Homo sapiens: one gene and its partners. The protein of the gene in region 2 interacts with the protein of the main gene of each other region in a pairwise test. Each region holds a gene or a part of one and is shown on either strand. Other genes may lie near its edges.

Region 1 (6,783 bases), on a different chromosome or scaffold from region 2:
CTGCTGGGGGTTTTCCACACCACTGCTCCCCTTCATTAGTGGGGATAATTGAGAGTTGACTGCAGTCGTTACTGCTGTTGTGATGGGTATTTGAAGCTAAATTCGGGCAAGTAGGAGATGTGTGAATATTTATCTCAGCTGCAGAAACTTAATGCAGTGTGGCATTAATTACCCTGTCTGAGCCTGCTGTCTTCTTCTGTTTTTAGGTGTCATTTTCAGTTGGATAAATTAGTTTCCAAAATTAGAATAGAGCAAATTGTAGGGTGAGATCAAGGCAGCCTGACTTCTTGGGGCATCCAAAAAGAAGAATGAGCTGAGAACATCTATCCAGGAAACATTAATATGCGTGCTTGAAGCCCAGCACAGGCAAAAGGAAATATTTTTCCCCAGTAGTTGTACTTAACTATTTTTGACTCCACCTACTGCACTTGTAGAACACAAACACACAATAAAGTTACATGTTTAGCCTTACAACATGTATTTGAAATAGTTCAAGAGACTGGAAAGGAATAGATTTGGTGTTTAATAAATCATAATCTTACTATAGATTTTGCTACATTTGATTTTGAGAGAATAAAGCCAAATTGGAGTGTATTTAGGACAAAGGGATCAGAACTGTGAGGAAACTAGAAACAGCATTATAATCATTCAGTAATTCAACAGACTCTCATTGAGGACCTACTGTGCTAGGTTCATATTTGTAAAATGGCAGAAGGAGGCCTGGCGCGGTGGCTCACACCTGTAATCTCAGCACTTTGGGAGGCCGAGGTGGGCGGATCACAAGGTCAGGAAATTGAGACCATCCTGGCTGACACAGTGAAACCCTGTCTGTACTAAAAAATATAAAAAATTAGCCGGGCGTGGTGGTGGGCACCTGTAGTCCCAGCTACACGGGAGGCTGAGGCAGGAGAATGGTGTGAACCTGGGAGGCCAAGCTTGCAGTGAGCCGACATCGCGCCACTGCACTCTAGCCTGGGCGACAGAGTGAGACTCCATCTCAAAAAAAAAAAAAAAAAAAAAGGCAGAAGGAACTGGCAAGTGGTAACCTAGAAGTAGGACATGGAAGAATGGGCTTCCGTACTTTTCTGTCATCAGACATTTGGACGAAGGATTGTACTTATTTACATTTCCAAGGGCAGTAGAAAGTCTACGGGCAGAAGGCATGGAGGGACAAGTTGGCACTTTGTTACACTGCATAATAGGGTGCCTCCAAGGAAAGAAGTTCCTTCCCACTGGAAGAATACAAACATAACAAGTTCTAGAGGAACCAGAAATTGGATCTGATGGCAGGAGTCTTGGGGTCTACTCTTGGCATGGATACTAAGTAACCCTGTGACTCTGAAGAAACAAAAGCTGTCTTCACAGGACTTCAGATTCCTCATCTGTACAATGATGGGCCAGTACAACCTTATCTTCTAGGCCATTCCACTTTACAGTAGAAAGCAAGCAATATGATATGCTACACACAAGAGACAGCACAATGACCTTGAGATCACACAACCTTTCAGAACTTCAGTTTTTATCTGCAAAGGGAGGACTCAAAAAATAAAAGCCACCCTCAGGACTATAAGGCAGATAAATAAGACATGAGGTGCTTTGTAAACTCTGAAGCACCAATGGATGGAAAGATTGGGGTCTCTCTCTCTCTGTCTCTCCCTCCTCATGGTCACTGTTGTAAAAGATTAGAAAAAGCACTGGCCCCTGGACCCTGTTTTCAGTTCTCATGTCTCTAGACTTACTAGCTGTGTGACCATGGGCAAATTATCTAACTTCTCTGTGCTTAATTTCACCCTTGCAAAAGAGATAAAGCATCTGCCTTACAAGGCTGTTGTGATGAGATAAAAAGACAATGTACTTGAAAATACCTAGCATGGTGCCAGACACATGGTAGGGGCTCCCAGAATGCCAATTCATTTTGAAGTTTCAAGAAAAAAGCAAATAATAAGAACCTATATGACAAGGCAGGGGACAAGCTAATATATCAAATATGGTAAAATTAGGATTTCATTGTGCCCGTTTAATTCTGGCACAGACCTCCAAGAGTGACAGCATAAAGGTCAATTTTAACAGAAGGTCCTGTGCATGCTTAAAACCACAGTATCCATCAAATCTGCTTGGCCAAGGCACAATGAGCCATCTCAACATCAGCTGAAGTCTGACGGGGTTTAAATAGGGCCGAACGCTGTTTCCTATCTAGGTGTGGATTGCAGGTTTGCTGCATTACATGCTGGTTGAAAATCCCTGTATGTGTTTCAGGACAGCCCCCTGGGTGCAGGCAAATGACTGGCCAAAGTGGAGGGCTCAGACTGAATGGAAACAAGTCCAGAAGTTTGTGATTAAGAGACAAAGACACACTTGCTGTTTCTCTGGCTCAACAGTGCACCCAGGCATCACTATTTGTAGAAGAGCAATTTGAAATAGAATTTCAGGGTTCTCAAGTGGACATTTATGAAACTGTGTTGGAAAAATGTCCACTTGTCTCATGGTAATTGTTAGCAATTTCTGAAGATGTATTGCTAGCAAGCATTGTGCTAGATACTTTATATGTGTAATCTCTAATTCCCTCAAGAACCCCGTAGGATAAACAGTACTATTCCCATTTTGTGGTTGGAGAAACCAAGACTCAGGATAAGTATCTTGTCCACATGACACAGCTTTTCTAACTCTCCCTACTATACCATGCTACTTCCCTAACAGGGCAATCAGTTCCAACTTGAAAACGAAAGACAGAACTGAGTGCATAGCTATTTTGGATAATAAAAATGTTGCCAAAATGTTATGCACCCTGATCAAATACTCCAAAAATAACCTAAGGTCATCCATCATAAACTGTCACTTTTCTGTTTTAATCCTAAACCCCTTTTCCCAAAGCTGTCTCAGAAAATCCATGCAAGTGTAAAGAGCAGGCCTCACTTTGTTCCTTTATCCACAGGAGCCAGAGCCTCTGTACGCGCAGATCAACAGACCTAAGAAATAGCATCGATGCGAGCTCGTGGTGGGTGCTCAAGACTGGCATGGACATCAGCATCACGACAGGCTCTCTTGTATTCTTTCACCTCTTCCCACAAGAAATTCATGATTGCCCAATGGAACTCGCTCAGAAGAGGGAACTAAGCATTTTTGGCAACCAATGGCAGATATCTATGGCAGCACACAAAAAAAGTATAGAAAGATCCACCCAACATTAAATCAGAAATCAAGCAAATGCTTACCCAACAAATATTTGAGCCCTCATAGCTGGGTTTAAGATGACTCAGTGTGCAAAATTATTAATTCCCTTTTTATTTCTCTACCTGTTGACCACTGTTGAGACACCAAATTTGGAGTGACAGGCATCAGAGGATTACAACAGGGTTGGAACTGACTTCTTTAAGCAAAAGCAAAGGGTCTTCTGTGACCACAATATCGTCATCCATATGCCTTTTCACATAGGATGATGTGTTTTTTGTCACTCCATGGGGCCTGGTCTGCCATTTTCCCCCCTTTCCTTTTTTTGTCATGTTTGAAAATTAATAGGTGTACAAATTTTTGTATTGCTTTTGACTTTTTTTAGATATGGGTGAAGAAATCTAACTGGGGAGAAAAAAAGCCTCAGTGAAATGAATTAACTTGAAATTACAAGACAAATAAGTGGTTGATTATTCATTATGATCACGAATGTTGCCAAAACAGTCCTTTAGCTATTCTGCATCCTGGTGAAGAAAGACAGCTTTCAGTACGAACCTTCATTCTGTGAGTAGGAAAAGACATCAGATCCCATTGATGAGAAAGATGAAAAATGCATCTGATTTCTTAAGAAGCTCTAAACTCTAAGTACAATAAAATGATATTTTTTATTTTTCCGATATCTTGCTGCTGTGTTGCTATGCAGACAAGTGTCTTCTCCACGTGCCATTTTCAAAGAAAAGTCATTTGCCAAATAATTCTGGTACAATTCTGGTAATGTGGTTTTGGATCTTAAAAACCAACTTTCTAATGGAACAATGGTGGCATAAATATTCAGAATAACAAACTGATTCTGTGGTCCAAATGGTTCATCTCTATCTCTTTTTGTACATCAGAAAATTCAAATGGGATTTTTATTTTATAACTTGAAAAAAAAACCTTACCATTAAACTCTTTAAATATTTAAGGGAAATGGCTTTAAGGAGTTCTAATGAAAAAAAATTGTCTTTTTTTTGTAAATATAAATGTTAATGAAAATGATTTTTAATAATGCCATTACACTGTAGAGAAGGTAGCAGATTGAGTGCAAGGTGTGACAAACTTGATGGATGGGGCTCACTTTCCAGACGTTATTCTGGAGCATATGGTAGGAAGCTGGAGTGCAGGGACAGCTGGCAGGAGCAGTTGGCCAATCAGCAGCTAGTGAACGGGAAGGGAGCACGTGACTCCATCATCTAGCCTTTCCACGAGAGTCCCCACCCTACGTGCAACACAAGAAAAAGACAATTCACATTCTGAAGAATTCAGATTCTGAAACTCTCCCACCTCCCCACTCCCACCTACCCCCGATATAAATCACTGGACTGTTTGTACGTGAAACAGAAGAGGCTAAGCTTCCTTTTTTTACACTTATGAGACAAAAAGTGCAGTGTTTGGTTCGTATGTTTAGCACATGATTTTCATAAAGAATCTATATATTTTTGCCCTACAGAGAATTGTTATACAGGTCAAGTGTGTTTTCCTGATGTTCCTATGCAGTTACAGTATGTTGAAAGTGTTTTAACACTAAGAAGAAAACTTTAAAGATTCATGTGATTAATTGGATTTGAGGATAATTATTATTATTTGGTTTTTAGATTTGAAAAGTAGAATTTCCATTGAGACAATTGATTTGAATAGGCCTGCATTTGATTCTTCATATCAATAGAAACTAAAATGATTTGGGAGATTCATTTGAAAAATGATTGTATACTTGTTCACAAAGCGAAAAGTGATACATGAAGGTAATGGTTATCATTTAAAGCCCACATTTTACACTATCAGGTCACAGGAGTCTAATTTTTTTTTCAGTTAGATAAACTGACCAAACGTCTATTCAAGAATATATGTCAATATCATCCTAATGTGGAAGGTCCGAAGAACCAGAAAAGTGAGAAGGGCCGTTTACCTCCCTCTGTAGCTATCACCTGTTGGTCCACAGAGTTTCTTGAGAAATGAGCAAACATTTTATGATTAGGTAACCCTTTCACATGAACGGGAAGATGGGAAAGGTGGAATGACCATAAGAGTTGGCCTGAGACCAGTTTGTTTTCTGGGGATTTGGTAAGATAGGCAGTTCCCATGGGAAATTGCTTAAATTGCTTTGTTGCCTATGATTTGATTCTAAACAAGTGGTGCTATCTTCTCCCTCAATATGGCTGTCTTGAGTTTGTCTTGCAGTATCACACCATTATACCAATTCTTTGGGTTGCTTCTGACACATTCAAAGTGAACTCTGGCTGATGTTGCTGTTTCAGGTATACCATCTGGAGTTAATTTCCTAGCAGAAGGTGAAAGTCCAGGAGAATTGTCCTCTTTCATTGAACATGATTGAAAATGTAACTGGCTCTGAACTTCAAGAAGATAGATGCCCAAGTGATGCATTAAAGTAAGGGAAATAAAGTCAAGTTTTTCAACTGCCATCCATATTCTCATTGGCAGAATTCTGATTTTTTTCCAAGCACTGTTTGGTGAGCCTGGAAGCACCGTATCCTGTCCCAGGAGTACAGTGAAATTTCCAAGCAAGAGCTGAGGTGCCAATACCAAAAGACCATGGGGAGTCTGCACGGTTCTGGTTAGATCAATAGAAAATCCATGTGTACAACTGTTAATTCCTCATCCTCCACTAGCACTAAATTTGTCACTTTAAATTTTGAAACCAGGGAAACACCACCTGTCATTCTGTCCCCATTCTCCATAGCTCTTCAATCTTTACATGCCGCAAGACTTTTTTGATAGCTCGTACTCATCCCAGTGTCTCCTGAAACCCCATCATGTAATGTACTGGGCACCTTCTTTTAAACAAATGTTTACTCTGTGGGTTTGGTTCATTTCAATTTCTGCGTTCTGACACATATTTTTTTAATAAAGATGAGAAAGAGAAAATGACTGTTGCAGTACCTTTCTAGACCTACTTTAACTTTACCTCAGATGACAGTTTGTTAACATATATGGACACATTATTTTTAACTTTATGTACAATGCATTCAACAGAACAGCAAAATTTTTAGAAATTTTCCATTAATTTCTGTAACACACCATGTAAAACTGTTACAAATAAACATGTTTGAGAACAACACTTTAGCCTGGCTTTATTCTACAAGTTTCCACTGGATATTCAGGCTTGGATCGGAAGAGGAAATTGCTTTACCTAAGATTCCATCTGACCAAGTGACAGCCTGTGTTTCCCTGGCCCTGAGCTAAAAAGAGCAAGCTTTATTGGGGAGTAAGGTCAATTTGTCAGCCCTCAGTTGAATTCAAGTGCTTGCTATGCTTGGAAAAGCAGCCCCAGACAGGAAGGAGGATGTTGTCAGAAAAAAAGCAAACCCTGGGTAGATGTGGTATTTGGACCACATTTAGCATGAGACGTTCAAAACTGGGAAAGACTCTGGGACTAGCCCTGTGGATTGTGTCTTCCCCTAAAACAAAACAAAAAAAACCTATTAAACTATTGATTGGAAAACCGAGATTAATCTAGACTGTCAAAGAGTTCCCCATCGTTCATTTTAAGGTCATCTGCTTTAAGGGACTCAAGAAGGAAGCATTTATCTTTCTTTACATTCCCCTCAAAATCCACAC
Region 2 (8,468 bases):
ACTCCCAATAACAGCAGTTTTCTCTGAATACTGTCTGTAGTAAATTTCAGGATGCAAGTTTTTCCCTACAGAAATAAAAATACCGAGTTCTTATGGTGACCATTTATGCATTAAACCAGGGAAAATCACCGACACTTAAGCAACATGAAAATTGAAGTTTAGTCCTAACATTAAAAGCAAAAAGGTCTGGGCACGGTGGCTCACGCCTGTAATACTAGCACTTTGGGAGGCCAAGGTGGGCAGATCATGAGGTCAGGAGTTTGGGACCAGCCTAACCAACATGGTGAAACCCCATCTCTATAAAAAATACAAAAATCAGCTGGGTGTGGTGGCACATGCCTGTAATCCCAGCTACTCAGGAAGCTGAGGCAGAAGAATTGCTTGAACCCGGGAGGCGGAGGTTGCAGTGAGCCGAGATCACGCCACTGCACTCCAGTATGGGCAAGACAGCGAGACTCTGTCTCAAAAAAAAAAGCAAAAGTCAGGCTGGGCACAGTGCACAGTGGCTCACGCCTGTAATCCCAGCACTTTGGGAGGCGGAGGCGGATGGATTACTTGAGGTCAGGAATTTGAGACCAGCGTAGCCAACATGGTGAAACCCCTTCTCTACTAAAAATATAAAAATTACCCGGTGTGGTGGCAGGCACCTGTACTCCCAGCTACTAGGGAGGCTGAGGCGTGAGAATCCCTTGAGCTCAGGAGGTGGAGGTTGCAGTGAGCTGAGATCATGCCACTGCACTCCAGCCTGGGCGACAGAGCAAGACTCTGTCTGAAAAAAATAAATAAATAAAAGCAAAAAGCATGCAATGCCACAATGCAACAGAAAGACTTGCAACAAACTCTTCAGGTCACTTGCATTAATTATCTATGTATTCCTTCATGACATCTTAGTACACTGGGATTCTAAAAATAGACAACATGTTATAATTATGTTTAAATACTCTATTTATAAACTAATAGGAAGGAAAAAAGCCTAACTAAAGGGGCAACTACTATTTAAAGAATTAACCCCAGATAGTGTCCTAACAGAAGTACTTTATTATGAATGGCTTCCACTTTCCCTTTGTATAAAGAAGAGGATGCTGCCTCACAGAAAATCTAATTTAAGGCAAAATATCAAAAATATGTAGAAGTCACCAATACTGCAAGACCACAATAATAAGCACCACAGTAAATCGACTATATGGTTAAAAATAAATGTAATGAACACTCTTCACCCATAAAGGAACCACTGAGTTAATGAAAGCCAACTTCACACACAATTTTAACAAAGCTGAGTATTTAATTTTCAAGCCCACAGTTGATGGAAGGTGGAGATCAAAATGTCATTTTGCAGGTAGGTGAAGAAACTGAAGCTCAGAAAGATAATTGGGCCAGAAAGTCCAAATTTTTCTAACCTAAGAAGTTTACATACTTATACACTCCTGACAGCAGGAGCACTCCTGACAACTGACTGCCTAGAAAAGCCTTAAAAAGGAAACCAACAATTCAAATGCGCAGAATCCTACTACAAGACCCTATAGGATCTCAGAGCATCAATAATTCTGAATCATAAAGAAATAGTCAAACAATGTACAATGAACTCTTGTTTAAGACACAGAACCATGTAATTTGTTACAGAAATAATTCTGTCCCAACTCGTTAACATAAAAAAAAGGGGAGTGCTAAAACGGGTAAATTTTCAGGATATATTAAAAACAGGAGAGAAGCAGCCATTCTAAATGTATCTTTTCTGGATTTTATAGCACGATTTCAAAATTTATAAAATGTTCACCCCCCCACCCGTCATTGTTACAAAGTAGCAATTACCGGCCATCCTGTTACCAAATGGGAATACACAAAGACAAAAACGTGTGTGTGACCGACACACACACACACTCACTCTTTTTTCCTGGTTTTAACTACTGAAAGTTAATATCAGGCCCCCCTAATTTCTAAAACATCTAATTGTTCTTTGGACAACTATGTTAGTACCAAACTATAAAAGCAAATACTTTTGTATTTGTGTTCACTACTGCAAAATGTTGGTTACACACAGAAAGGGCTATCGTGGAAAGAAATTAAAATCAATGCACAAAATGGTGCTTTTATAGCATTTCCAAAACGATTGTGCATACTCCTTGCCAGCACATCTAGACTTTGCTCCTTAAGACTAAACATGAGCTGGCCGTGCGCGGTGGCTCTCGCCTGTAATCCCAGCACTTTGGGAGGCCGAGGTGGGCGGATCACGAGGTCAGGAGATCGACCATCCTGGCTAACACGGTGAAAACCCGTCTCTACTAAAAACACAAAAAATTAGCCGGGCATGGTGGCACGTGCCTGTAGTCCCAGCTACTTGGGAGGCTGAGGCAGAAGAATCACTTGAACCCAGGAGGCGGAGGTTGCAGTGAGCCAAGATCGCGCCACTGCATTCCAGCCTAGGCGACAGAGCGAGACTCCGTCTCAAAAAAAAAGACTAACCAAGAACCAAATTAGCATACTTCCCCTTCAGGCATACTGAGCCCCGAAATCATCATCTTCCTCCTAAAGAGTAATTATCTCCTCCTAAAAGGCCTGCGCAGCTCACAGCTCCTCCGAAACACGGGGGAACTTCGCGAGAGCTCAAGACCCTGGACTTGAGTTTTAGAAAAATGCTTAACAAAGTGGCCTCTGCCACTTAACTGCACGACAGCCACTGTGCTGTGAGAGGAAAAGGTCGAAAGAGGAGGAAAGCTAGTCTTCAATTTTAATCCCTGTGATTCAGGCTCTTCGCCCGTCACTCTCCAACCCTAGCCTGACAGGACGTCAGGCTGTCTCCCCCTTCCCCACCAGTCCCGCCACCTACCCCGCAACAGTGCTGAGTCTTAGGATTTTGAAGCTTTAAAAATCAACCCGGCTCCCTAGAGTTCAGGCCGCAGTCGCTGCCGCCATGTTACAGCTTGTGCGGCAAAATGCGTCAGTGAGGGAGGTGTGCGCCTGAGTGGGGAGGGCGGGGGCTGGCAGAGGAAGGACCGTCCCCAGGCCCCGGGGCTCGACTGCAAGCCTTCTCCTTCTGCAACAGCGGCAAAGGCACTGCTGCGGTCCTCAGGGACTTCCTCTGGGCCCAAGCAGCCCCGATACCTCGAGGGAAAGACGGTAAACCCAACCCGGTCAGCCGCGCCGGCTCCGCCCCTCTTCCCAGGCCCTTCCCGCTTTCGTACGCAGGGACTGCTGAAATGACGCCGCCAGAACAACTTGAGCCTCATACCACTTACCTGCACCGGTAGAGTTTTCCTCTTCTCTGGGTCCGGTCCTTTGAAGCGCTTCAAATCTACCGCCGCCAGAAAAGGCGCTAAAGCCCGCTAACCGCCTCCCTCCCCCACAACTCAGTCCTGGCATGGAGAGACAGCGTCGCACCGGAAGCGCGTCAGGAGTGGGTTGTCAGCATCGGCCAGCGTTCACCTGCTTGCGTCACCACGCCCTCCTAGGACTTCTAGGATTTTGGTGCCTTTTAAATTCCTAGTTTATAGGTGGCCTAATGCTTTGTGGATGCGTTGACTGGGAACGCTTGTAACCGTTAAAATGCCATATCCTTTGTGAAGTAAAGTGCCTCATTTAATAAACATTTATTGATCTTACGCTAGGTTATCAGAAAGGAAGGCCTACCTTCATGGAGCTTCCAGTTAAGCTTCCACTTAACGCTAGGATATAAGTTCTAAAAACGCAGTAATGAGCAAAGTGTTATTTGAGGAAAGAGGAAGAAATTACAAAGAGCTTTGATGTTCTTTGTTGTTTTACAGATAAAGAAATTGAGGCTCAGGGAAGATAAACGCCTCCTCCTCAAACACACTGTTCTTGAATGCCAAAGCAAGTCTTTTGATGCCAAATCTAGTGCCTTCTAGAGAAAATATGGCATATATTATTTAATTATTTTAAGGGGCAAGGGTCCCCGGATTATGTTAGAAATAAATAACCATTGCTGTTTGGGCGGGGGGGTGGGGGGGGATGGGCAGTGATTCTGGTAGGGATGTGGGGTGTGTTTTAAAGGAACTAGCTAACTAGAGGACTTAAATTGTTCTGTCGTTTAAAGGCAACGTAAATTATGATCATTTAAATTTTTCACTCACTTGCATCAGGTAAATTAATTATCAACAACAGTTAGGCATGTGGTGGTGCTTCTAAGGGGCGTGACCAGTTTTACACAGCAGTAAAACAGAGGACATTTCTGCCTCTCCACCCCCACCTCTTTTAAGTCATTGCCCTTTATTGCAGGAGAGCAGCAGCATATTCATCTTTAGATAGTTCAGAGATTAAACGGATTTACACTTCGCTGTGTGTGGAGGGGACAATTCTGCAATACCTTAAAACAGGGGTCCCCAACCCCTGGGCCACAGACTGGCCTGGCTAATTTTTTGTATTTTTAGTAGAGACAGGGTTTCTCCATGTAGGTCAGGCTGGTCTCAAACTCCCAACCTCAGGTGATCCGTCCTCCTTGGCCTCCCAAAGTGCCGGGATTACAGGTGTGAGCCACCACGCCCGGCCAACGCTTTTCGAAAGAAGACATACTTGCAGCCAACAATCATAATGAAAAAGCTCAACACCACCAATCATCAGAAAAATGCAAATCAAAACCGCAGTGAGATACTATCTCATACCAGTCAGAATGGCTATTATTAAAAAGTCAAAAAATAACAGGTGCTGGTGAGGTTGTGGAGAAAAAGGAACATTTTACAGTGCTGGTGGGAGTTTAAATGAATTCAACTATTGTGGAAGACAGCGTGGCGATTCCTCAAAGACCTAGAGGCAGAAATACCATTTGACCCAGCAATCACATTACTGGGTATATACCCAAAGGAATATAAGTTGTTCTGTTATAAAGACATACACATATGTATGTTCATTGCCACACTATTCACAATAGCGAAGACATGGAGTCAACCTAAATGTCCATCAATGGTAGACTTGATAAAGAAAATGTGGTACATATACTCCATGGAATACTATGCAGCCATGAAAAAGAATGATCTCATGCCCTTCGCAGGAACATGGATGGAGCTGGAGACCATTATCCTTAGCAAACTAATGCAGAAACAGAAAACCAAGTACCACATGTTCTCACTTATAAGTGGGAGCTAAATGATGAGAACACATGAAGACATAGAGGGGCACAATACACACTGGGGCCTATCAGAGTGTAGACAGTGGGAGGAGGGAGAGGATCAGGAAAAATAACTAATGGGTCCTAGACTTAATACCTAGGTGATGAAATATTCTGTACAACAAACCCCCATTACACAAGTTTACCTCTGTAACAAACCTGCATATGTACCCCACAACTTAAATAAAAATAAATAAATGGAAGGATACTGTATGTATAGTGTATATAATAAACAACATTTGTTATCCTATAGTTTCCTTATATATATTTATATATATATTTATTATCCTAGTGTGTGTATGTATACATATACTATATATGTGTATATATACATATATATACACACACATATATGTACGTGTGTGTGTATATATGTGTATATATATATAAATAAGTGTTGTTTAAGCCACTAAGTTTTGGGATGATTTTGTCACACAGCAAGGGATAACTGACACAGAGAAGAAAGAATAGACTGATTATCACGGAACTTTTCACTTGTCTAATTCTACATAGCTTCATTTTTTTTCTTTTTTTCTAGAGACAGGGTCTCATTATGTTGCTCAGGATGGACTTGAACTCCTGGAGTCAAGCGATTCTCCCACCTTAGTCTCCAGAGTAGCTGGGACTACAGGTATGTACCACCTCACCCAGTGATGACCTCACATCATAAGGATCTGAGTTTCTGCCAGCCCGAATCATCAAATGCCAGAGAAGTATTTTACTAACATAGCAGTAACAGCTCCAAAATTTGTACTCCCACTTACATAGTAGGGGGTGTCACTGGAAAGTGTCTGTTCTGCTAAGAACTACATTTTTTAGCTGTCCCCTTGTATCTTAGTGGCTTGAAACAACATTTATTATCCCATAGGTAAGGATTTAAAAATGCTTTTTGGGGCCGGGCGTGGTGGCTCATGCCTGTAATCCCAGCACTTTTGGAGGCTGAGATGGGTGGATCACGAGGTCAGGAGTTTGAGACCAGCCTGGCCAAGATGGTGAAACTCCAGCTCTACTAAAAATACAAAAATTAGCCGGGCACAGTGGTGGGCACCTGTAATCCCAGCTACTTGGGAGGCTGAGGCAGGAGAATCGCTTGAACCCAGGAGGTGGAGGTTGCAGTGAGCCAAGATTGCACCACTGCACTCTAGCCTGGGTGACAGAGCAAGACTCCATGTCAAAATAAATAAAATAAAATAAAATAAAATAAAATATAAAATAAATAAAATATACTTTGTGTCAGTGGAAAGTGAGCGGACATCCAGGCCAAAATGTTTGTGAAGTGCTATGCCTTCTCCATTCCCTCTCTTCCTGTTTTGTCAGCTGAACCAGAATGTTTTAAGGCCCTGGGGAAGGGCCTATGGAAAAGGTCTACTTCCCTGAATCTCTGTTTGGAGAAAAGTCCTCTTCCACTGACTAGGGATATCCACATTGGAATGTGGTGTGACTGATAAATCAAATTATGTGGGTTAAATCACTGATGTTTGGCTTTATTTGTTACACCAGATACCACTACCAATCTAATAGGCTGTGAGCCTAAAGTATTAGATTTGGCCTAGCCTGGATCACTTCAGTCATTGTAGTATGAGGAATGGGATTTGATACCAGAAGAAGGGAGGTAGGTTGGCTGGGCTACTGCAATTAACCTTTACTTTACCTGTGACTTTTGCTTTAGAGTAATAAAACTTTTTGTTTCTACCCATAGATCAACAACAAACTGTTGTTTGTTCTATTAATAGTTGTCTACTGTATCACCAATAATATGTTTAGTTTTTTTTAAAAGCATGCCATTCTCTGATTGTGATGGATCAAGGAAAAAACCAGACACTTCCATAATCTTGTTTCAGACAAAAACAAGAACATTGTACAAACTGTAAAAACGACCAAACATCGGCCGGGCATGGTGGCTCACGCCTGTAATCCCAGCACTTTGGGAGGCCAAGTCAGGCGGATCACAAGGTCAGAAGATCAAGACCATCCTGGCTAACACGGTGAAACCCTGTCTCTACTAAAAATACAAAAAATTAGCCAGGTGTGGTGGCAGGCGCCTGTAGTCCCAGCTACTTGGGAGGCTGAGGCAGGAGAATGGTGTGAACCTGGGAGGTGGAGCTTGCATTGAGCTGAGATCGTGCCATTGCACTCCAGCCTGGGTGACAGAGTGAGACTCTGTCTCAAAAAAAAAAAAAAAAAAAAGACGAAATATCCATCTATCCTTGCTAATATGAATGGCTGCTGTTTCTTTATCAATTACAGCTTTAACCTCAGTTCATTCTTCCTGCCTTCTAGATCAAGATTATTAGAATAGAATTACCCTTGCTTACTCACAGCATCCAATCTAGAGAAACCACTCTAAAACTCTCCAAAATCACTTAACACAAGGCTAAAAAAAATTTTTTTTTTCGAGACAGAGTCTCGCTCTGTTGCCCAGGCTGGAGTGCAGTGGTGCAATCTTGGCTTATTGCAACCTCTGCCTCCCGGATTCAAGTGATCCTCCCACCTCAGCCTCCCAAGTAGCTGGGATTATAAGCATGTGCCTCCATGCTTGGCTAATTTTCGTATTTTTAGTAGAGATGGGGTTTCACCATGTTGGCCAAGGTGGTCTCGAACTCCTGACCTCAAGTGATCTGCCTGTCTCAGTCTCCCAAAGTGCTGGGATTATGGGTGTAAGCCACTGTGCCTGGCCAAGACTATATGCTATAATGACAACTTTCTAACACCTTCTTATGGAGACACCTCTTAGGGTACAGCCTACTTCATTGCAACCAGTCAATAAACCCAACTTTGTTTAACTATATGTGTTCCTGGTGTTTTTTGACTGGAAGGCAATGACTTGGATCATGCTGTTTCATCTCTATGTTTTTCTTACATTTGTTTGAAAACCCCTTCTATGCTGTGCATTCAGATTACCTTCATCTCAGATCTATTATCAGTTGATCTAGTTCCAAGCAACCCAAATCAGTGCTGTATAAAATTATTGTCTGGGATTAGTGGTTGTCTAAAGTATTGGAGGACAGGAGGGGGTGAGGGAGACATGGGGAGTGACTGCTAATGGTTACAGGGTTTCTTTTTGGAGTTATGAAAATGTTCTAAATGTGAGTGATAGCTTCTCAACTCTGTGAATATACTAAAAAGCCATTGAATTGTACACTTTAAATGGGTGAATTTTATGGGACGTAAATGAAATCTCAGTAAAGCTGTTTAAAAAAAAAAAAGTGTGGGCTGCCAACTGTCAGGAAGTGAGCATCCAGAAGCTAGACGTGTCCCAGCTGCCCAATTGCGTTTGCTGCATTGGCATCATTTGCTACAGGCATGAGGTTGGGTGCAGGCAGTTGTCTGAGCTCTGAGGCATGGACCACTG
Region 3 (7,764 bases), on a different chromosome or scaffold from region 2:
AGTCACTTGAACCCGGGAGGTGGAGGTTGCAGTGAGCCGAGATCGTGCCACTGCACTCAAGCCTGGGAGACAGAGTGAGACTGTCTTAAAAAAAAAAAAAAAATCACTGGATTCCTGACTTCTGATCTTTTGGGGGAATATTTTTTTTTCTTTTGAGATGGAGTCTCGCTCTGTCTCCCGGGCTTCAGTGCAGTGGTACGATCTTGGCTCACTGCAACCTCCACCTCCCAGGTTCAAGCAATTCTCCTGCCTCAGCCTCCCAAGTAGCTGGGACTAGGCGCGCGCCAACGCGCCCGGCTAATTTTTGTACTTTTAGTGGAGACGGGGTTTTACCATGCTAGCCAGGCTGGTCTCAAACTCCTGACCTCAAGTGATCTGCCCCCCTTGGCCTCCCAAAGTGCTGGGATTACAGGCATGAGCCATACCGTGCCTAGCCAAGGGAATCTTAATTGTTTCTTTTATTTCATGTACCCTGTTCCTTTTCTTTTGTACCCAGAAGTACTCTGTGGCCTATATATATTTTTTCTTTTTTAAAAAAAACTTTACTGTGGAAAATTTCAAACATATACAAAGTAAACAGAATAATATGATGAACCCTCTTGTACTCATCACCTTGCTTTAACATGTTACTACTCTTTTTACCTTTTTTTTTTTTTTTTTTTTGAGACACAGTCTCGCTATGTCGCCCAGGCTGGAGTGCAGTGGCACAATCTCGGCTCAAGTGATTCTCGTGCCTCAGCCTCTGACATAGCTGGGATTACAGATGTGTGTCTCCACACCCATCTAATTTTTGTATTTTTATTAATAGTAGAGATGGGGTTTCACCATGTTGGCCAAGCTGGTCTTGAACTCCTGGCCTCAAGTGATCTGCCTGCCTTGGCCTCCCAAAGTGCTGGAATTACAGCCGTGAGCCACCACACCTAGCCCTCTTTTATTATTTTTACTTCTACCTATTCCCCATCCTCTAATCAATAATTTTTTTTTTAGGTAAAATTCATATACAATGAGATGCAAAAATAAGCTGTTACAGTTACAACCACGTAGCAGACCTATCATAGTATAATACATTTTTATCTCCCTACAAAGTTCCCTTATATACCTTCCAAGTCATCCCCTGCCCCACCAGGAAACCATTGTTCTCTTTGGCTCTGCCTGTTTTAGACTGTCATATAAACAGAACCATGCATTACACATTCTTTGTGTCCGGCTTTTTTTGTCGAGCATTATATCTGTGAGATTCATCCGTGTTGCATTCCTTTGTTTCACTGAGTAGTCCATTGTATGGATATACCATGGTTTGTACATCCGTTCTCTTACTCATGAACATTTAGGTTCTTTCCAGTTTTTATTTTTTTGTTGTTGTTGTTGTTCTTTTTTTTTTTTTTTTTTTTTTTTGAGACAGAGTCTTGCTTTGTTGCCCAGGCTGGAGTGCAGTGCCACGATCTCGGCTCACTGCACCTCTGCCTCCTGAGGTCAAGTGATTCTCCTGCCTCAGCCTCCCAAGTATCTGGGACCACAGGCATGCGCCACCACACCCAGCTAATTTTTGTAATTTTGGTAGAGACAGGGTTTCACCATGTTGGCCAGGCTGGTCTCAAACTCCTGACCTCAGGTGATCCACCCGCCTCGGCCTCCCGAAGTGCTGGGATTACAGGCGTGAGCACCTGGCCTAGTTTTTGCTTTTATGCTGTGAACATTTATAACAAGTCTTGGGTGGACTTACATTTTCATTTTTCTTGGATAAGTACCAATGGGTGGAATTGCTGGGTCAATAGATGCATGGTTAATTTAATTTAATTTTTTTAATTAATTTTTTTTTTTTGAGATGGAGTTTCGCCTTTGTTGCCCAGGCTGGAGTGCAGTGGCACCATCTCGGCTCACTACAACCTCCACCTCCCGGGTTCAAGCAGTTCTCCTGCCTCAGCCTCTTGAGTAGCTGGGATTACAGGCATGCGCCACCACTCCCAGCTAGGTTTGTATTTTTAGTAGAGACAGGGTTTCGCCATGTTGGTCAGGCGGGTTTCCACCTCCGGACCTCAGGTGATCCGCCCACCTCGGCCTCCCAAATTGCTGGGATTACAGGCATGAGCCACTGTGCCTGACTGCATGTTTAATTTTATAAAAAACTGCCAAACCTTTTCCTAAACTGTTTTATGTCATTGTACATTGCTACTGACAAAAGGATGAGAGTGTGGTTTTACATTCCCACTGACAAAGGATGGGTATGTGTCTTTGGTTTGCAAGTTTAGATAAACTGATAGATACAAAAAGCTTTTTCTTAGAGGAAATGGCTTGTAGGAACATCTCAATATTAGTTGTTATTCCACAGAATGTAAGATGACCTTGAAATATATACTCGTTATTGATTTGTCCTTTTCACGTGGCTTCTAAGGAATTGTAGAAGTTATTTTAGTCCTTATAGTAAATCAGCTGATATGGTTATATAGATAGTATAGTTGTTGCCTTTCTGAGAATGAAGACGTTACTGAATGTCCTAGATTTATACATTTTAGAACTCTGTTTATAATTTCCACAGTCCTTTTAGGAACCCCTGTCTATGATTCCTAGAAACATTCTCTTTAACACTTAGTGGTTTTAGCAGTGAATATCTGTCATCACCCACACTGTTGTGGTCAGGGGGATATCACAGCAGGTAATCTAAATGGAATTCTTGGGATGAAACTCCACCAAGGTGAGTAATGTTTATGGCTTTCCAAAGCATTGCAGTTAAATCATTCAGCAATAAACCTGCGTTTGCACCATTGCCAGGTATTAATGTGAGTCATTTGTTTTATTTTAGTGATGTCCTTGCATTGCCCATTTTTAAGCAAGAAGAGTCGAGTTTGCCTCCTGATAATGAGAATAAAATCCTGCCTTTTCAATATGTGCTTTGTGCTGCTACCTCTCCAGCAGTGAAACTCCATGATGAAACCCTAACGTATCTCAATCAAGGTTAGATGCTTCCTCATTCATTAGTACTATTGCAGACCTACTGTATTTATGATTTTTTTGTTTGTTTGTTTGTTTTGAGACGGCGTCACCCAGGCTGGAGTGTAGTGGCGCCATCTTGGCTCACTGCAAGCTCTGCCTCCCGGGTTCACACCATTCTCCTGCCTCAGCCTCCTGAGTAGCTGGGACCACAGGCACCCGCCACCACACCCGGCTAATTTTTTTGTATTTTTAGTAGAGATAGGGTTTCATCGTGTTAGCCAGGATGGTCTCGATCTCCTGACCTCATGATCCGCCTGCCTTGGCCTCCCAAAGTGCTGGGATTACAGGCGTGAGCCACCGTGCCCGGCCATTTATGATGTTTTATTAGGTACACTTATATGTAAAAACTTAGATCTTTCTAGTGTGGCCTATCAAACTAGAAGTCCTACTTCAGAGATTTGAGTTCTAATGTCATACTTGATATCTATTACTAGCTTCTTTTGCTTAGCTGTCCATTTTTAGTGTCCAGCTTCCTCTTCCTAATCATATTCCCTAGACACTCCCATTGGTTACTGTCTGAGAAGTATTACTCTACCTGGCTCTATTATTTACCAATTGTGTGGCCTTGGACAAGTTGCTAAAACTCTTTTAAGTTTCAATTTCTTTGTCTGTAAAATGGGATTGATAATACCTTAGAAAAGTATATCAGTTAAATGAGATAATGTGACAATACTTAGCACAGTGCTGAGCATCTTGTAAAGGCTTCTGATTGTTGTTACTAATACTAATAATATTATTATACTGTTGTATATTCAACCAACTGAATTTTATTCTTTCCGAATCTAGCAAAGTTAATTTGTGGTGAATATAATATGTAATTACTTTTTCTTCTAGGACAGTCTTATGAAATTCGAATGCTAGACAATAGGAAACTTGGAGAACTTCCAGAAATTAATGGCAAATTGGTGAAGGTAAAACGAATAAATCATTCTTCTGTACAATATTTTTTACTAATCCTTTTGGGATTTTAAATTTTGTTGTTGTTGTTAATGTTCTTTTGCTTCCAATGGCTTAATGGTATCTCTTGCCTGCAGTAATTTGTTGGCAGAGTAGTAAGCTGATGTGTTATTTCTTTGGGGTCAGAGTAAGCCCCAGTATTCACATGAATTTTTCAGAGCTGCAGAAATAGAACGCTTACCACTCCCTGTCCAGGGTAATCACCCCTGGCTCAGTGAAGTTCTTTTGGGTGGAGTAAAGTAACCTCCTTGAGATCTTTAGAGAAGCCTCAGTGTCTTTTTTGATACTTAGTCTTATAGCAAGGAAAACAGAAGCTACTTTGATGAAGAGCAGTTCTCTTAGTCTAGATTAACAGTTAGGATTTTGATAATTCACAGCACAGTTGAAACAGAGGAGTTTTGTCAAAAGGTGGTGGGAGGAATTAATAGGCACTTCTACAAAGTAAGAGTAACAAAAGGAAAGTTGATGGAAACAGGCTCTACCTACCCTCAGTGTTTACAGGTTGTATGGTGGGTTAGCAAGCGGGGGAGTTGGTGAGTTTTTCATATACATCTGAAGAGCTAAGCCAGATAGGCCGTGGTATAACAGAAGAGGTGTGCAGAAACGCTTCAGACAGGAGTACTTTATTCCTAGTTACCATCGGACTGAAGTTTAAGCCAAGTTTTAAATATGGTACCAGTTAACTATAAAGATTCTATCTGAGAAATTGGCTGGACCCGGTGGCTCACGCCTATAGTCCCAGCACTTTGAGAGGCTGAGGCGGGCGGGTCGCCTGAGGTTGGGAGTTTGAGACCAGCCTGACCAACATGGAGAAACCCTGTCTCTACAAAAAATACAAAATTAGTCAGGCGTGGTAGCACATGCCTGTAATCCCAGCTACTCAGGAGGCTGAGGCAGGAGAATTCCTTGAACCCGGGAGGTGGAGGTTGCGGTGAGCCGAGATCACACCATTGCACTCCAACCTGGGCAACAAGAGCAAAATCTGTTTCAAAAAAAAAAAAAAAGATTATATCTGAGAAATTATAAAATTTTATCCTGAAATAGCACTTAGTATGGTATGGGTTTTAGAGTGAAACAGATCTTAAGAAAAATAATTTTAGATTGCGTTTAGAAACAAACTGGCAGTGAATCCTGCTAGTTTTTCTTTGTCAGCACTGATTTTCAAGAGGTCTTGTTATCATCTGATTTTGTTGTATCCTTTTAGAGTATATTCCGTGTGGTGTTCCATGACAGAAGGCTTCAGTACACTGAGCATCAGCAGCTAGAGGGCTGGAGGTGGAACCGACCTGGAGACAGAATTCTTGACATAGGTGAGTTAAGAGAATCTATTGCCTAGGAAATGCCTTTAGCTATGGACCCAGAGTTGGTTTTCTTTATTTGACATTTACCTTGATTCATATGCTTGAGAGGCTCAATTAGTATAAACCTTGAAATTATTTACTAAGCATAAAAAATTTTAAGTAATACAAGTTAAAATGATATCAAAATTGAAGTTGGAAGTGTAAACACTTTAGTTCCATAGCAACTATAGGTTGATTTTGTTGTTTTTTAAGTTGTGGTAAAATATACATTACATAAAAGTTATCATTTTAACCATTTTTAAGTGGATAGTTCAGTAACATTAGGTACATTCACATTATTGTGTAACCATCACTATCATCCATCTCCAGAACTTTTCTCATCTGCAAAACCAGAAGTCTGTACCTGTTAAACAACAACTCCCCATTCTCCCTTCTTCACAGCCCCTGGTAACCACTATTCTCCTTTCTGTCTCTATGAATTGGACTACTAAGTACTGCATAAATGAAATCATACAGTATTTGTCCTTTTGTGACTGGCATTTTTCACTTAGCATAATGTTTTCAAGGTTCATGGTATAGCATACATTAGCATTTCCTTCCCATGCAAGGCTGAATAATACTCCATTGTGTGTATATATCACACTTTGTTTATCCATTCATCCCATGATAGGCACTTAATTTGATTCCATTTCCTGGCTATTGTGAATAATGCTGCTATGAACATGGATGTACAAATATGTGTTTGAGTCTCTGCTTTTAATTCTTTTGGATACATATCCAGAAATGGAATTGCTGGGTCATATGGTAACTCTATCTTAGATTTTTTTTAGAAACCACTATATTGTTTTCCACAGTGACTACACATTTTACATTTCTACCAGCGGTACTCAAAGGTTCCAATTTCGGCCGGGCGCGATGGCTCACGCCTGTAATCCCAAAACTTTGGGAGGCCAAGGTGGGCAGAACATGAGGTCAGGAAATCGAGACCATCCTGGCTAACATGGTGAAACCCCGTCTCCACTCAAAATACAAAGAAATTAGCTGGGCGTGGTGGCGGGCGCCTGTAGTCCCAGCTACCCAGGAGGCTGAGGCAGGAGAATGGTGTGAACCCGGGAGGCGGAGCTTGCAGTGAGCCAAGACCACGCCACTGCACTCCAGCCTGGGTGACAGAGCGAGACTCTCTCAAAAAAAAAAAAAAAAAAAAGGTTCCAATTTCTCCAATCCTTGTCAACACTTGTTGCTTTCCTTTTTTTTTTTTTCCTGAGATGGAGTTTCGCTCTTGTTGCCCAGGCTGGAGTGCAATGGCGCGATATCAACTCACCACAACCTCTCCCTCCCAGGTTCAAGTGATTCTCCTGCCTCAGCCTCCAAGTAGCTGGGATTACAGGCATGCACCACCACACCTAGCTAATTTTTGTATTTTTGGTAGAGACGGGGTTTCACCATGTTGGCCAGGGTAGTCTCAATCTCTTGACCTCTTGATCTGCCCGCCTCGGCCTCCCAAAGTGCTGGGATTACAAGCGTGAGCCACCACACCTGGCCTGTTGCTTTCTATTTTTTGATAATATCCATCCTGATGGTTGTGAAGTAGTATCTCATTGTGGTTTTGATTTGCATTTCCCTGGTGATAAGTGATGTCAAGCATCTTTGCATGTGCTTATTGGCCATTTATATATTTTCTTTCTTTCTTTATTTTTATTTATTTATTTATTTATTTTTGAGATGGAGTCTCCCTCTGTCGCCCAGGCTGGAGTGCAGTGGCATGATCTTGGCTTACTACAACTTCCACCTCCCGGGTTCAAGCGATTTTCCTGCCTCAGCCTCCTGAGTAGCTGGGATTACAGGTGCCCGCCACCACACCCAGCTAATTTTTGTGTTTTAGTAGAGACAGGGTTTTGCCATGTTGGCCAGGCTGGTCTTGAACTCCTGACCTCAGGTGATCCACCCGCCTTGGCCTCCCAAAGCGCTGGGATTACAGGTGTGAGCCAAGGCTCCCGGCCCATCATTTATATATTTTCTTTGGAGAAATGTCTGTTCAAGTCTTTTGCCCACTATCGAATTGGATTGTTTTGTTTTTTTTGTTATTGAGTTGAAAGAATTTTTAAAATATTCTGGATATTAACCCCATAGCAGATATATCACATGCAAATCTTTTCTGTTATTGTGTGGGTTGCTTTTTTACTGTGTTGATACTATCCTTTGATGCACTAAAGTTTTACATTGAGGTGGTCCAATTTATCTAATTTTTTTTAATTCCCTGTGCTTTTGGTGCCACATCCAAGAAATCATTGCCAAATTCAGTGCCAAGAAGCTTTTCCCATATGTTTTCTCCTAAGAGTTTTATAGTTTTAGGTCTTATATTCAGGTCACAGGTCCATTTTGAGTTCGTGTTTGTATATGGTACAACCATATACAAAAAAGGTTGTATGGTAAACCATATACAGAAAGAAGGGCCCAACTTCATTCTTTTGCATGTGGATACCCAGTTTTCTCCACACCGTTTGTTGAAAAGACT
Region 4 (7,436 bases), on a different chromosome or scaffold from region 2:
TAACTTTTTTTTTTTTTTTTTTTGAGACAGAGTCTTGCTCTGTTACTCAGGTTAGAGTGCAGTGGTGCAATCGTGGCTCACTGCAACTTCCGTCTCCCAGGTTTAAGCGATTCTCCTGCCTCAGCCTCCCAAGTAGCTGGGATTACAGGCACGTGCCACCACACCCAGATAATTTTTGTATTTTTGGTAGAGACGGGGTTTGGCCATGTTGGCCAGGCTGGTTTCGAATTCCTGACCTCAGTGATCTACCCGCCTTGGCTTCCCAAAGTGCTGGGATTACAGGCATGAGTCACCACGCCTGGCCAACTCTAACTTTTTTACGTTCTCTAATCCTCACAGGTTCTCCAGAACAAAATCCTTGATAGGTGTGCTTCCTCCTTTTTTCTTTTTTCTCAAATGATGGGTTAAAGTTCAAATGTTAGGAAAGGCTGGGTGTGGTGATTCAAGTGTGTAATTCAGCACTGTGAGAGGCTGTGGCGGGAGGATTGCTTGAGCCCAGGAGTTTGAGACCAGGCTGAACAACGTAAGGAGACTGCGTCTCTACACAAAATTTAAAAAACTAGCCAGGCATGGTGGCATGTGCCTGTGGTCCCAGGTACTCAGGAGGTCGAGGTGGGAGGATTGCTTGAGCCCAGGAGAGATCAAGGCTACTACAGTGAGCCGTGTTTACACCACTGCATTCCAGCCTCGGCAACAGAGTGAGACCCTGTCTCAAAAAACAGAAACAGAAACAAATGCTTGGAGAGTGTTGTGTTAGTAACTTATTGTCTTAGTCTATTTTGTGTTGCTATAAAGGAATACCTGAGGCTGGATAATTTATAAAGAAAAGAGGTTTATTTGGGTCACAGTTCTGCAGGCTGTACAAGAAGTATGGTGCTGACATCTGCATCTGGTGACCCCTCAGGAAGCTTCCAGTCATAGCAGAAAGCAAAGAGGGAGCAGATGCGGCAAGAAAGGGAGCAAGAGTGAGGGGAGGGAGGTGGCAGTCTGTTTTTAACAATCAGATCTCGAGGAAGCTAATAGAACAAGAACCCACTCATTACCCCAAGAATGGCACCAAGCCATTCATAAGGGATCCACTCTCATGACCCAAACACATCCCACCAGGCCCCACCTCCAACACTGGGGATCACATTTCAGCATGAGATTTGGAGGGGACAAACCTTCAAACTATTTCACTTACCATTCATAGCAAAAGCAAAGCCCAAATGTGTGTTTGCAAAGCCTTCCAGACACAACAAAAGAGAATTAATTCATAATTCCCGATTTAACTTAGTCGGCCCTGAGATTTTTTTCCCTGAATTGTTATACCTAGATTAAACTATTTTTAAACGTTTGAGTGATTCCTCATTAGTTTTGTTAATCAAAGAGGTAAAGCAACTTAATATTGAGTAGTATTGTGAAGGATTATCATATTTTTGAATAAGTGCATTAACGGTCTTCCTACTGAATATTAATGAAGCATAAATACCTGTTCTTATTGTTTATGTGTAACAGAGCAGCTTGGCTTGGCTGGAGCTAAGAGCCAGACACACCACTGTGTGGAGGTGGGTGATGTCTTCCTGTGCTAAAAGGTGAATAAATAAGCTCCTCACCTCTCGCGGAACACTCGGGAACACATCAACAGGTATTTAGCCACATCTCCTGATTTCATCTTTCAATGGCAAAGACCTTGAATCCTGTCCTTAACTGGGGCTCAGACATTAATCAACAGGTCTGATGAGCATATGGTGGGGACACCAGATTTCATTGGAGTCCCCAAGAGAAAAAAAAGTCACAGTGAGCAAAGAAGGGGTCTGACAGAGTGGGACAAATGCAAGCGCAGTGTAAAGCAGAACCGCCATCTGCCCCCAGTTCCATTCCAGATTAGAGTATGGATGCTTCCAAGGAAAGAGAGTGCTGTGTAGTAAAACTGAACATTGTTTCACCAGGGGTCCAAGCCGCCCTGCTGGGAGGCTTCTCTTCAAGAGTTCTGGGTCCCAGAGTGGAAGGCATTTTCCCATCAACTGGAGAGAGACGAAACATCAGAGACCAGGAGGCTGTGGAGAAAGCAGCTGTCCCAGGTGCCTCAACTATCAGAGAAGGGTCAGCGTCACGTGGCTGCCAGCATCTTTGAGAAAATCACTGGCAATCGGACTTCAGAGCTGCGGGCACAGGTGTGGTTAGAACTGAGATACGACCTGCCCACCTGGGTCAGGCCTAAAGACAAGAAGTCCTGAGTTCTTGCCACTGAGTAGGCCAGGGTCATTTGTCCAGAAAACTTTGTGACTGTCTTTGAGTGACCTAGTCTGGGACCCATTCATTGGTGGGTTCTAAGGTTAGAAGCTCATCCAGGATATTTTCAATATTAAGTCAGTGCATAGCTGCACCACTAACAAATTGGTGCCTGTAGAGTCAGAGTGGGTCAATTCTTAGGACAATGGCGCTGGCACTGTTAGAGGACTGGTGCAGGATAATGAGTGTGGATGAGCAGAAGTCACTGATGGTTACGGGGATACCGGCGGACTTTGAGGAGGCTGAGATTCAGGAGGTCCTTCAGGAGACTTTAAAGTCTCTGGGCAGGTATAGACTGCTTGGCAAGATATTCCGGAAGCAGGAGAATGCCAATGCTGTCTTACTAGAGCTTCTGGAAGATACTGATGTCTCGGCCATTCCCAGTGAGGTCCAGGGAAAGGGGGGTGTCTGGAAGGTGATCTTTAAGACCCCTAATCAGGACACTGAGTTTCTTGAAAGATTGAACCTGTTTCTAGAAAAAGAGGGGCAGACGGTCTCGGGTATGTTTCGAGCCCTGGGGCAGGAGGGCGTGTCTCCAGCCACAGTGCCCTGCATCTCACCAGAATTACTGGCCCATTTGTTGGGACAGGCAATGGCACATGCGCCTCAGCCCCTGCTACCCATGAGATACCGGAAACTGCGAGTATTCTCAGGGAGTGCTGTCCCAGCCCCAGAGGAAGAGTCCTTTGAGGTCTGGTTGGAACAGGCCACGGAGATAGTCAAAGAGTGGCCAGTAACAGAGGCAGAAAAGAAAAGGTGGCTGGCGGAAAGCCTGCGGGGCCCTGCCCTGGACCTCATGCACATAGTGCAGGCAGACAACCCGTCCATCAGTGTAGAAGAGTGTTTGGAGGCCTTTAAGCAAGTGTTTGGGAGCCTAGAGAGCCGCAGGACAGCCCAGGTGAGGTATCTGAAGACCTATCAGGAGGAAGGAGAGAAGGTCTCAGCCTATGTGTTACGGCTAGAAACCCTGCTCCGGAGAGCGGTGGAGAAACGCGCCATCCCTCGGCGTATTGCGGACCAGGTCCGCCTGGAGCAGGTCATGGCTGGGGCCACTCTTAACCAGATGCTGTGGTGCCGGCTTAGGGAGCTGAAGGATCAGGGCCCGCCCCCCAGCTTCCTTGAGCTAATGAAGGTAATACGGGAAGAAGAGGAGGAAGAGGCCTCCTTTGAGAATGAGAGTATCGAAGAGCCAGAGGAACGAGATGGCTATGGCCGCTGGAATCATGAGGGAGACGACTGAAAACCACCTGGGGGCAGGACCCACAGCCAGTGGGCTAAGACCTTTAAAAAATTTTTTTCTTTAATGTATGGGACTGAAATCAAACCATGAAAGCCAATTATTGACCTTCCTTCCTTCCTTCCTTCCCTCCCTTCCTCCTTCTCTCCTTCTCTCCTCCTCTCTCCTCTCCTCTCCTCTCTTTCCTTCCTTCCTTCCTTTTTTCTTTTTCTCTTTCTTCTTTATTTCTTGGGTCTCACTCTCATCACCCAGGCTAGAGTGCAGTGGCACAAAAATCTCGGCTCACTGCAGCCTTGACTTCCCAGGCTCAGGCTCAGGTGATCCTCACACCTTAGCCTCCCAAGTACCTGGGACTACAGGCACGCACCACCATGCCTAGCTATTCTTTTGTATTTTTGGTAGAGACAGGGTTTTGCTGTGTTGCTCAGGCTGGTCTGGAACCCCTAGGCTCAAATGATGTGCCCAACTCGGCCTCCCAAAGTGCTGGGATTACAGGCATGAACCGCCATGCCTGGCCCTTGATTTTTCTTTTTAAGAAAAAAATATCTAGGAGTTTCTTAGACCCTATGTAGATTATTAATGAACAAAAGATTAAACTCCAAATATTAAATAGTAAGCCTGAAGGAATCTGAAACACTTGTACTTCCAATTTTCTTTAAATAATCCCAAATAGACCAGAATTGGCCCATACCATAGAAGAAAGAATTGGCAGTCAAAAAAAAAAATACCTTTTGTAATGTTTGAAAAATAAAGCTGTTTGACTTGTCAGGTGTTTTCCTTTCTCAAATCAGCAAATTCTCTCTGAGTGCCTGGCTTTGTGAGACACTGTACAAGGAGTTACAAGACTACAGCTATAACCTGCAGTTGAGCAGTTATAAACCTACAAAATGGGCCCTGCCCTCAGAGAGGTTCCAGTCTAGATGAGGAGCTGATCTAGACAGGTAAAAGGCTAACTAACCCTTTGTGTAAATAAGTTCATCACCCCAGTAAAAGTGTCATCACCCAGTGAATAGGACCACCTCTGCCTGCAGATTTTTGTTGTTGTTGTTGTCATTGTTGTTGTTGTTTTAACCTGGGAAGTGTTCTTCCTGCCTTTCTGCTAGGTGTCAGATAGATGGTCCCAGAGCTAGGTGCTGTGTCAGGCCCTGAAGACACAGATGACTCAACCTAAGCTTTACTTTCCAGAGGTCCACAGCCTGAGAGGTGTCCCCAAAGAAAGGGGGACATGAGGGGACTGCATGCTTGAGAGCAGGGTTGTTTAGGGCAGGTTTGGATTTAGTGAGCAGGCTGGTTTGCTTAGAGAAGGCTTTTAGTGGCAACAAAGGATGAAGAGGAGAGAAAAGGAACTCACATTTATTGAGGGCCTACTGTGTGCAAAGTGTTTCATGTATATCTCATTGAATGTATACAGCCACCCTGTTGTGGTATAATTTTGCTCTTTATAAAGAGAAAGACCGAAGCTCAGATGAGTTAAGTGGTCTCCTCAACACCAAAATGCCAAGAAGTGATGGAGCCTAGACAGAAGCCCAGAACTTTCTGACTCACACTAGTCCATCCTCTACCATCACGATGACTTTCAAATTGTGCTCTGCAGTTCTGCAGATTTTCTAGCAGTGCCATCTCCAAAATGTGTTTTAAACTCTTTATTTTTTTAATTATTATTAGTATTATTTTGAGACTGAGTCTTGCTCTATCACCCAGGCTGGAGTGCAGTGGTGCAATCTCAGCTCACTGCAACCTCCGCCTCCCAGGTTCAAGCGATTTCGTGCCTCAGCCTCCCGAGTAGCTGGGATTACAGGCACCCACCACCACGCCCAGCTAATTTTTGTATTTTTAGTAGAAATGGGGTTTCACCATGTTGGCCAGGCTGGTCTCGAACTCCTGACCTCAAGTGATCCACTCACCTCGGCCTCCCAAAGTGCTGGGATTACAGGTGTGAGCCACCATGCCTGGGCTAAACTCTTTAAGTCTCTAGTAAATGCAGCTAGATTCAAATGGGCTGATAACCAAATTTTAACACATCAGCATTCACCACCAGGTTTACTTTTATTTTCAGATTGGCTCATTTTGTGCAGACCTTAGAGCAAAGTTTCCTTTATGGTATCTGTGTACGTATCCAAACTTCTTTTAATTGTTCACAGATTTTAAAAGCGGTAGCACCACATGGTTGTGTAGATCAGACCTGTGTATTTAGATCAGACCTGTGTATCACGTAAGTGTGTGAGTGCAGTGCAGATGAGCACCATTTAGTTATATGTGCTAGGCAAATCTCCAACACAGTTGATGTGTAGTCTTGTGGTAGATTTGTGCATACTGTAAGCAAATTGCTTAGCTTCTCTAGACATCAGTTTCCACATCTGAAAAATAAGAAGATGAGAGTACACGGTTGTTATGAACAAATGACTTAATGCTTTTTAAGCACGTTGCATGACATCTGGAACACAGAAAGCCCTCAATACATTGAAGCTCTTAGGATTTTCACGATGTTCCTGTCTGCTCAATGCATGCTTTCTTTATTGTTCTGACAGTTGTGTGGTAACAAGCTAATATGCTTCCAGTTGACTTCCAGTCTACCCTGGTGTTAGAAACCGTTTCATCTCTTATTGTAAATTTGAGTGCTTGTTGTTTTTTATATTTGTGATGACTCTTCCAGCAGTTGTTGACAATTGTTAGAGGTTTGACTTTTAAATAATTACTTATTTTTTCTGATTGTGGTTCAGTTTAACTGAAGAATATCCTGAGATTGTAAGAAAAGCATTTTTTAAAAGGTATCACTTGTGATCATTTATCTTTCTAAATTCTATTTTTAATACTGTTCCACCAAAGTGATGCAGTGGTTACCATGACACCCTAATTTCATGTGTTTTTGTATTTATGAAAATAGTTTCATTGTCATTTATTGGCGGTATACAAAGTAAAATGTTATAAATGTGAAGTTATAAAATAAATATATGCTAATAAAATCCTGAGTTTTTCTGTTTCCTATATCGTGGTCTCTATAAAGTACTGCTTGAAGAAGGAGCTTTGTTACTGAAAAATTTTGAGAGATAAGTTGAGAAAATCAAGCTAAAGCCAAAAGGTCTTAGAATCCTGTAGGCAAGAAAACCTGAAAGCAAAAAAATGCTTGAACAAGAATACTTGAACTATGTCTCTGGGGACAAGGGAGAGCTCGGTCCACCCATTATCGATTTCTCTTTTAAAATATACAGAAACAACAGATGGAGGTCAGTTGCCTCAGAGACCCCCCAGCTCATTTGCTTAGGAAAGTAACTGTACAGATAAATTCCCAGACTCTATTCTGCCAAGGGTGAATGACCCTGAAGGTCGAATATTGCTTTTCTGGGCTGAAGTCACCCTTTTTCTTCTTCTTCTTCTTCTTTTTTTTGAGACAAGGTGTCACCCAGGCTGGAGTATAGTGGCACAATCTCGGCTCACTGCAAACTCTGCCTACCAGCTTCAAGTGATTCTCATGCCTCAGCTTCCCGAGTAGCTGGGATTACAGGGGTGCACCACCACGTTCCAGCTAAGTTTTTGTATTTTTAGTAGAGACAGGGTTTCACTATGTTGATCAGGTTGGGCTCGAACTCCTGACCTCAGGTAATCCACCTGTCTTGGCCTCCCAAAGTGCTGGGATTACAGGCATGAGCCACCGTGCCCAGCCTGAAGTCACCTTTTATTCTATGGAGGTATATGGGGGGAAATTCCTCTTGCCTTTGGCCTTCTTGAAATTGCTTCTCCTTCTTTTTTCTAAAGTGCAATGGGGGAGTATCTTTCACTGGGCCATACATCCTGCAGACCAGCCCATTAAAGAGGAATGTCCCAAGGGGGCCCAACGCCATCTCCCACTCACCCAAGCAAACTCTCCAAGGGGTGGTCTCATCCTATACTTCATACTTCTCCAGTCCTGACTCTCAAATACAGGCCC

The links.
Region 1: the proteins of PPIG (region 2) and DAB1 interact in binary tests that used the Homo sapiens proteins (3 or more experiments, as listed by UniProt).
Region 3: the proteins of PPIG (region 2) and TFCP2 interact in binary tests that used the Homo sapiens proteins (3 or more experiments, as listed by UniProt).
Region 4: the proteins of PPIG (region 2) and PNMA2 interact in binary tests that used the Homo sapiens proteins (3 or more experiments, as listed by UniProt).

What each region holds. Positions count from the first base shown.
Region 1 is NC_000001.11:56,994,278-57,001,060, reverse strand, and holds the end of DAB1 (disabled homolog 1), read left to right. Parts: intron 1-2,913; exon of another isoform or gene 2,914-2,932; 3' UTR 2,933-6,283; downstream 6,284-6,783. UniProt on the Homo sapiens protein: Signaling adapter of the reelin-mediated signaling pathway, which regulates the migration and differentiation of postmitotic neurons during brain development.
Region 2 is NC_000002.12:169,579,256-169,587,723, reverse strand, and holds the start of PPIG (peptidyl-prolyl cis-trans isomerase G), read right to left. Parts: upstream 3,374-8,468; 5' UTR 3,234-3,373; exon of another isoform or gene 3,227-3,233; intron 2,925-3,226; exon of another isoform or gene 2,825-2,924; intron 1-2,824. UniProt on the Homo sapiens protein: PPIase that catalyzes the cis-trans isomerization of proline imidic peptide bonds in oligopeptides and may therefore assist protein folding. May be implicated in the folding, transport, and assembly of proteins.
Region 3 is NC_000012.12:51,113,809-51,121,572, reverse strand, and holds part of TFCP2 (alpha-globin transcription factor CP2), read left to right. Parts: intron 1-2,800; coding exon 2,801-2,952; intron 2,953-3,825; coding exon 3,826-3,902; intron 3,903-5,152; coding exon 5,153-5,258; intron 5,259-7,764.
Region 4 is NC_000008.11:26,503,739-26,511,174, reverse strand, and holds the end of PNMA2 (paraneoplastic antigen Ma2), read left to right. Parts: intron 1-1,497; 5' UTR 1,498-1,627; intron 1,628-1,931; 5' UTR 1,932-2,419; coding exon 2,420-3,514; 3' UTR 3,515-6,474; downstream 6,475-7,436.